Regions from separate parts of the Homo sapiens genome. Here all the other regions are linked to region 2. The links come from fine-mapping of genetic effects on gene expression. A gene starts in region 2. Each other region holds a variant in brackets. All regions are shown on one strand. Distances are between the middles of the regions.

Region 1 (2,766 bases), 100 kb after region 2:
GTTAAAGAATGATGAACACTGTAAGCCTACTACCTGGCTTAAAAAAATAGAATGTTATCAACTCATTTGAAGATGCTGTGTGCCTGTCCCCTATTGTATCCCTCTCTCTCATTCCCAGAGGTAACTACTATTCCGAATTGTGTATATGTGACTCTTTTCATTTAAAAAAAATAACTAGAGACATTTTCTTATGTTCCTACTTTCTGACATTTCTTAGTAACTTGTTTGCTGTCATCAGGAAGATATCACCTCAGATTTGATTCATGTTTGCTTAAGTGTGTCTTAGGTGATTTTGTTTTGTAGGAATTGCATGAAATAATTGAAATAGGAATAAATCTGAAGTCACTTCGGGCTTGCAAAAAAAAATTGTATGCAAAATTATAGTAACATATATAATATGTATATAATATATAATACATATAATAGTTATATATTAACATTATGTTAATGTTAACTCACCAGTGTAGTAAAATCTGTAACAGAACATAATTCCTGGATAACTGAAGGTTTTGAATAGTCCTTGGGTATTTGGCATAGAAGGATTTAATCTGATTTTTAAAATTTGTTGACTTTTTTTTTTTTCAGAAATGGATTGACTTGCACCTAAATGAAATTACTTATCTAATGATCTCTTGGACTTAAAGCACTTTGTTTCTGCAGTTACTTCGCATGAGTGTTTACTGCCTCTCAGTCAGCATTCTTTACAGTATTAATACACAGAGAAGGAAGGACCAGCTGCATTAGAATCACTGTAACTTGTTGAAAATCCACATTTCCAGACTTAACACCCAGATATTCTAATTCAGTACGTCTGAGTGAGGTCCAGGATTCTATATTTTTAACAAACATCCCAGGTGATTTGCATGAAGACCAATGTCTGAGAACCACTGCTTACAGGAATCAGAGTACTTTGCTGGCATCTTTGAGCTCTTAGGGTCCTAAACTACCTGCTTTCTTTTCACTTGTCTTAGCTTTCTAAACTTGGAATTAGGAGGCTTATTCAAGTCCTGGTTCTTCCACTTTCTGGCTAGCAATCTTGGGCAAGTCACTTAAATTCTGCAACTGTTTCCTCATCTGTACAATGAGAACAGTGATGTGTTCACTGCCCAGCCTCCAACATATTTGTGATTAAAGAAAAACGAGATAAGATAGTAATTTTCCATTATAAAGTACTCCACACTGTTAAGTTTGTTGCTTTTTTTTTTTTTCCTGTTTCCCAAGATTATTGTCTTGGGTCACTGGCCTTTTGGGTGGCAGGTCCTAAAGGAGGAGGAGTCCTTGACCAGAGTACTTCCAGGTAGTACTCTGAATTTACAACAGGGCTATTCAAATAGTGCTCATACTCCTTATCATTAGGGTGTCTGGATGAAACATACCTCTGCTTCTGATTTCTTAAATAGTTTTGTTTTATATATTGTGCTATGATTTAGCTCCAGCGGCGCCATGAGCAAATGAAAAAGAATTTGGAAGCACAGCACAAAGAATTGGAGGAAAAACGTCGTCAGTT[C/T]GAGGATGAGAAAGCAAACTGGGAAGCTCAACAACGTATTTTAGAACAACAGAACTCTTCAAGGTAACTAATAGCAGATTACTAAGAAATGTGTGTATTAATGTTTTAAAGAATTGTTTTCCTACTTATTTAAAAAACATTAGAATAACACTTAAAAAGTCATCACCCATTATCATGCATTCCAAACACAATGGTTTTCATAGATAAATATTTTTATATGGATGGATACAGTCTGTGTCCATTAGCAGTATTTTTTCAGTACATCTTTCATGACTTAATATTCATAATTATGATTTAGCAACTTCATAACATTCTCCCCAGTTAACTTACCTTCATTGGATTTCTTACCTCCTCCCCCCAGTTGTTGGACATAAGGGTTGTTTTCAATTTTTGGCACACAAAGGGAACATTCTTCAAAATCTATTACATATTTAGGGGTATGTTTTAACTGTTGAATTATGTTTTTACGATAAAATTCTTAAGACAAAATGTTAGATATTTGATTTCCAATACAACTAATCAATTACTTTCTCTTAATTTATACAAAATTCAATAATATTTGTACCTTGGTTTTCTTTTCCTTAATAGTTTCACTTAAAACTGAAAAGTGGCATTCCTATAAGGATTATATAGTTTATCCTCATTACTAAACATTTTCAGATTTGACATTTGTTCTACTACACTACCCTACTGTTAACATTTTCCCCAAAGAAGAGGAAAATAGATTTGTGAAAGCAATTGCACTTCAAAATGCAAATGACAGTGGGGGAAAAAGAATACCCTGTTTGCTGCCAGTTGATACTTTTTAGTTTGTGCTGTTTCATTTGGGAAGAATTGTTCTTGTATATTAAAATGGAGTTTTGCCTTATTTTTTTACTGCTTATCCTGGAGTTTTGTCAAATATTTGATTGTCTAAGAAAATGCTATTATAGATTAACATTGTCTTAGCTGTTTACTTCTAAATCTTTTAATTTTTTTCAGTGAAAAAGTAGTATCTGAAAATCCCAACATTGTTGTAATTGGGTTAGCTGTTGTTATCATGTTGTCTATCATGTTTATAAAATGGTTACTCATCTTGCTTATTTTCCTTTTATCCTTTAGAACCTTGGAAAAGAACAAGAAGAAAGGGAAGATCTTTTAAACTCTCTATTGACCACCAGTTAACGTATTAGTTGCCAATATGCCAGCTTGGACATCAGTGTTTGTTGGATCCGTTTGACCAATTTGCACCAGTTTTATCCATAATGATGGATTTAACA
Region 2 (2,766 bases):
GAAGCAACCAGTATTCTGAATTTGGTATCTATCATTTCCTTATACAATTTTTAGTTTGATCTTACTTTTTTGTAATTATTAAACTTTTATTTATGGTATGTCATATATATCTTTCCGCAACCTGTCTTTTCATTTCTTCCTCAATATTAGGTTAATGACTCTATCCATATGAAAAATGGTAGCTTTAGTTCACTGATTTTTTGGTTCGTGTTGTATGTCAATTTGTTCAACAATGACACTTATTCATCCATTCTCCTATTAGTAGACATTTATTGTTTCACTAATATAAGCTATTTTGCTCTGAACTTTCTTGCACGTGCCTATAACTTAAAAATACACATACTTTTTTAAAACATGCAGTTAAACAGGAACATACACATTTCTTTAACATGTAGTTAAACAGGAAAAGTAACACATGTGCATGAAGAATACAACCAAGAGAGCCATCACGTTCAAGAAAAGACCACAGGTTATTCCGAGTGAAGTAAGGCTTTCACTAGAAGGCACTTGGGGAACGTTCCAATGACAGCGACATTCATCGCTACAGTAGAAACTCACACAATCGCAGCCCTTTATTAGTATTTTGTTACCCAGTAGTTCCTGTGTCCATTCATTTCCTCAACTGGAGTGTGAGCTCCAAGAGGACCGAACCGGGCACCGACAAGGTGAGCCAATATGAATGTGGCGAGTCCGCAATGGGGGCTACAGCGGCCGACCTCTGGGGCTGTGCCAGGCCACTAGAGTGTGATGGCGCGAGGGAAGGGTCGGGGAAACAGGGCCTAACCTCACTTTTCACCCCGAAAGTCAAGATAGCCACGGAAACAGGGATGAATGGGGAGCACAGACACCTGCCTCGAAGTGTCTCTTCACTTTCACTCACAAAGCCGTCGGGTCAGTAACCAGAAGCCGAGGGGCGGATGCGGCCCCCGCCCTGTGGCACTTTCTCAGTCTGGTTCTTCCAGCCGCGCCTCTTTGCCTTACGCCAATTCCGTAAGGAGGCGCTGAGGCCAACTGGCCGGCTCCCGCAGCTCCAAAACTTGACGTGAAATTGCGCGGGGCAGAGCTGACTGCGGCCATCTTTAATTCGGGCAAGACCCCACCCTCGCACCCCACCCACTAGTCCTTTTCAGCGTTCCCAGGATTTTCTCCAACAAATGTAACGCGGTTAACCTTAGAAGCAGTGTTGAAGAAACACGCAAAGAGGCCTGAGTATCCATGACCTCAGTGGTGCGAAACCCGGCCAACTTAAACATGGCGGCTAAACCCGAACAGCAAAACGTTGCTGACGCCAATGAAGTCATGCTCGAAATGGAGCGAGGCGGCGGAGCTGGGGAGGCGGTAATCTCGCGAGATGGAAGCCAGCCTCCGCTAGGCCCGGAAGCCTCGTCTGAGGGGGCGGGGGACGGAGGAGGGAGCGGGAGTCGAGCGAGAGCCTGTGGAGGAGTCCGCCTGCTGTAGCGTGCGTAAGCAAGGCAGCTACGCCGGGCGGCTACGCTGCGGAATCGGCGTAGGCGCCTTTGGAGAATCGGCGGGCTGCGCTCCGCTGGGGCTGGTCGCGGAGGGGGGGAGGGGATGTCGGTCAGTGCGAGATCCGCTGCTGCTGAGGAGAGGAGCGTCAACAGCAGCACCATGGGTGAGTCTCAGCTTCGGGTGCCGCGACTTGGGGTCAGCGGCTCCGAATGCCGGGAAGCTCTGCGGCCGCTGGACCGAGCTAGGGAACGCCCTGAGGCGAGGCGGAGGCAGCGGCGAGGGGAGCCGGGATGGGGGCCACTGCGGGCCCGGGGCGCGGCAGCGGCGGGCTCGGGGGGAGGGGAGGCGGCGGCGGTGACAGTTTGAATTGAACGTGAGGAGAGCCGAGGCGGCGGCATTTCCTGTGCCGCGGCGGGCTGGCCCCCGGCGCAGAGCCGCGGCCTCCGCGGCCGGAGCAGCCTGAGCGTGGTGGTCTCAGCCCTGCCCTTGCTTCTCTCCGTCCCTTCGCCTTTCCTCAGTCTCCTCCCGGGCCCGCCGGCTTCCGCGGCCCCGCTTCCTCCTGTCCCCGGCCGCATCCCCGTCGGCAGAAGTCCCCTCGTGGGGCAGTGGGCCTGGCTAGGAGGGTGGGGACGAGTGTGAACGCTCGGGCGAGGGTGCTGTGTGGGCCAACCCGGGCGGGCGGCGGCGGGGAGGGAGGAAGAAGGATGCACCAGGCTGAGGCTGTGGTGGAGGCGGCGGCGGCGGCTGCAGCCGCAGCTCCAGTCACCGCGTCGCCTCCCCGCTCCTCCTCCCGCCTCTCGGGGTTGCCTCTCTCCAGGCGCAGCCCGGAAGGCCGGTGGATGGCGGGCGAGTCTTGAGAACGGAGGGAGAATCGGTAGTTTGGTTTGGAATTTGGGCTTAATTTTTAGGAGTAAGGGAAAGAGAACGCCTGGGAAGGGCGCCCCCCGGAGGAGATAGAAAGGGTGGGAAGGGTCCTTGGAAAAGGGAGGGAGCGGAGATGTGGAGTGGCGAAGTTTAGGGAAATTAATTTTTGAAAATATTTCAATATTCTCAGTTATTCTCTTAACGAGCCCTTTCATTTCCTTTCCTCCCCCACATGTTGGAAAAAGAACAGGCCATTTCATTTACATTTTCCACTCCTGAGTTCCATTTCAGCTGTGTGTATAGTAAGAAATAAGCAACCGAGATTTTTCTAGGACATTTCCATTTGCTGAGTTACTTTTGAAGAGTACACTGTTTCAAATTTGGGTTTTTACAGTCCTAGGAAAGAATTTGTGACGTCCAGGTGTTTTCTTA
Region 3 (2,766 bases), 85 kb after region 2:
TTGATATCTCATATTTAGAGTAAAAAAATTTCGTTAATAAGAGATCCTCTTTACTAGTTTTGTAAGGAGTTTTTTGTTTTCTTTTTTAACCTGCTATCTTAAATTATTAAGGGTTAAGTAAGGAGTTTTAAATACCAATAAAATCTTAGTTATAACACCAAGCCTCAGAAGTACTTCCTCTTGGCAATAGGTTTATTGTATTGGTTTAATCTGATACTTAATCTTCTGTATTATAGTAAGCTGAAACCAAAATTGAGATTTGATTGTTTTATCTGTTTGTTGCTATTATTTTTGAACTTCGTTTTTTTTTTTAAGAGACAAGGTCTTGCTATGTTGCCCAACTGGCCTCAGAATCCTGAGCTCAAAGTGATCCTCCCACATCATGCTCCTCCCACATCACGTCACTATAAGCACACACCACTGCCCCTGGTTTATTTTGAACAATTCTTTAATTTTTAGGATATTGTTTCAGGTAACTGTCCTTATTGGCAATTTTCCCATCAGTGACCTGTGTACCTTGTTCCCAGCTCTCTCTATCATGCCCAGGCAACTTTTACTTGCTGAGCTGGGGCTTTAGAACTTACCCCTTAAAAATACGCACCGGAGAAATTGATTTGCATCTCTCTTTTGTAGTTTACCCCTCTACTCCCAAGTAATATTCCTATTTGTGATACATTCTTTAAAAATAAAAGTAAAGAACCTGAAAGTTCTTGGCTCCCTTTTTCATTTTGGTTACCTTAAGATTTTTTCTAAAGTGATTCTCCCTTCACTCACACCACTGAATTTTTTAAATGTATTATAGAATAAATATATTTTTTACCAATAATAAGATTTCCCCTTTCAGAATTTCAAAGTTGTTTCTGGAGAGTTCATTTGTTAGGTTTACATATCTATTTCTGAGGATTAAACTACAATAAGGCAATAATAGAGTACACTTCTCTGTCATGCCCTCACATTGAGTGTACTATGTTAGTGTTAAATCTCAAAAAAATTGATCTGTTTTGCATTTCCTCTTCTTGTTTTTACACCCCAAGTTCCTGTGAAATATTTTTTGAAAAGACTAGGTTTAGTGGAAATATAACATATGCGGTCTGCTTTTTTCTTACAGTTGAAAATGGTGAACATTGTGATTTTACAATCCTAAGAAATATGTTGATAAGGTAAGTGCAAGCAATGATGGAAATAGCATAAGATTTTCTTTCCCTAAGTAAGAGTTGGACAGATTTACTTTTTGCCTTCTATAAATGTAGCTAATTTAAATTTATATCTTCAGTCTAGCCATGAAGTAAACACTAC[A/G]TATAGATGATTCTTTCTCCAAGGTTTTGAAGTCATGAGCAAAAGTTGCAAAGTAATTTGTCTAGGGATACATAGGAAAATTAGTCTCTTTATCATTATACTTTGTGTCGAGATTTAATACTGAAATAACTATGGAAAGTGAAGTAGAAGAGGCTCTTTTTTCTTAATGTGAAAACCTTGTGAAAACTATATAAGAGAAGGCTAGTTTTTGAGTCCAAAGCTAGAATTTGAATGTTAAAAGGTGCACAGCCTGGTAGCTGGTGAGTAGGGCACATTTTATGTACTGGAACATAGTGAATAAAACCAGTATTCCTACCAGGTGAGAAATCCCTAAATTGTGTCTTACACACCTGCTGAAAGAGAAGGAAAGCCTATGGGAGCAGGACATCGAGGCCATCCTGATTAGAGGACCAGGACTGTAAAGAGGATCTCTTACTAATGAATTAGAAAAGCAGCAGCAGAGAGGAAATCATGAAGAAAAAGTGTAATAGGACTAGAGATGTTAGTAGACAAGGAACAGAAAGGGCATCAAAATGATCCTCAGTATTTTCATGTTGAGACACATTCATTCCCCTCCCTACCTGACTCCGCATTTCCCACTTTTCTCTCTTGCTTCTCTACACCTTTACCACATACTCTCTTTAACCTTCAGTTTTAGATGTCTGTCTTTAGTTGATATCTATTAATTTTCATACCTCTACCCACTTTCCCAAAACATAAGAATCTCTTTTGCTGTGTAAAGAAAGGTAGTTACATAAATATGGATAATAGTTGGAAATCATGGAATAACAAGAGGTCATTCTCAAGGTGAGAAGTGAGGGGGAAAATTTAAGACAGTCAAACTGCTACCTCAAGAAATACAATAGAGGTGAGAGTGAATTTTGAAATTAAATAAATGGCATGTAATTGATCTTTATTTTCAAAGGAGCAGGTGTTCTTGGTAGGAACTACATGATAGGTTTAATTCAGCAGTTGAGGTTGCCAGGCCTCACTTAGTGGAGAAGAGCAAAAGCACGAGAAGGTCATCTTCTGGGTTTTGAGAATACAACACTTCAGGCTCTATTATGAACCATTCCCTTCCTCTTCCATTCTTAAGGTGTGACTTCAAAAGAATACATATTAATAATATAATCTGCTATGACAGTATATAAGTAGAGAATGTTTAATAAATACTAATTTACCATTGCATTCCTCTTGTTTTTAAATCTTCTATGGTACTTGCCTAGTGCTTGACACAATGGCATTCTATAACTTTTTCTTGTGTATTTTAAAAGTATACAATCAATAATTTCCTACATACCTAAAACACTGTAGAGGGGAAAGCTAGTTACTGAGCCAGAGGCTACTTTGTTGAGATGGAGTCTCACTTTCTTGCCCAGGCTGGAGTGCAGTGGCACGATCTTGGCTCGCTGCAGCCTCCACCCAGGTTCAAGTAATTCTCCTGCCTCAGCTTCCTGAGTAGCTGGGATT

Evidence for each region. PIP is the estimated chance that this variant, and not a neighbour inherited with it, causes the effect.
Region 1: its variant is fine-mapped to the expression of SEPTIN7 in whole blood (INTERVAL, PIP above 0.99).
Region 3: its variant is fine-mapped to the expression of SEPTIN7 in whole blood (TOPMed, PIP 0.96).

The regions. Positions count from the first base shown.
Region 1 is chr7:35,901,646-35,904,411 of GRCh38, forward strand. It overlaps SEPTIN7 (septin 7), which reads left to right. Exons shown (of 14, transcript NM_001788.6): 13 at 1,431-1,570; 14 at 2,609-2,766. The coding sequence ends at 2,648. Among named protein-coding and RNA genes, the nearest start is that of SEPTIN7, 100 kb to the left of the region's middle. The variant C/T (reference allele first, on the strand shown) is at 1,508.
Region 2 is chr7:35,799,638-35,802,403 of GRCh38, forward strand. It overlaps SEPTIN7 (septin 7), which reads left to right and starts at 1,420. Exons shown (of 14, transcript NM_001788.6): 1 at 1,420-1,633. The coding sequence starts at 1,573. It overlaps SEPTIN7-DT (SEPTIN7 divergent transcript), which reads right to left and starts at 988. Exons shown (of 5, transcript NR_120512.1): 1 at 853-988. RefSeq lists enhancers at 652-711, 834-1,457, 1,072-1,461 and silencers at 1,612-1,851, 1,882-2,331.
Region 3 is chr7:35,884,720-35,887,485 of GRCh38, forward strand. SEPTIN7 (septin 7) reads left to right here. Exons shown (of 14, transcript NM_001788.6): 10 at 1,109-1,160. Among named protein-coding and RNA genes, the nearest start is that of SEPTIN7, 85 kb to the left of the region's middle. The variant A/G (reference allele first, on the strand shown) is at 1,297.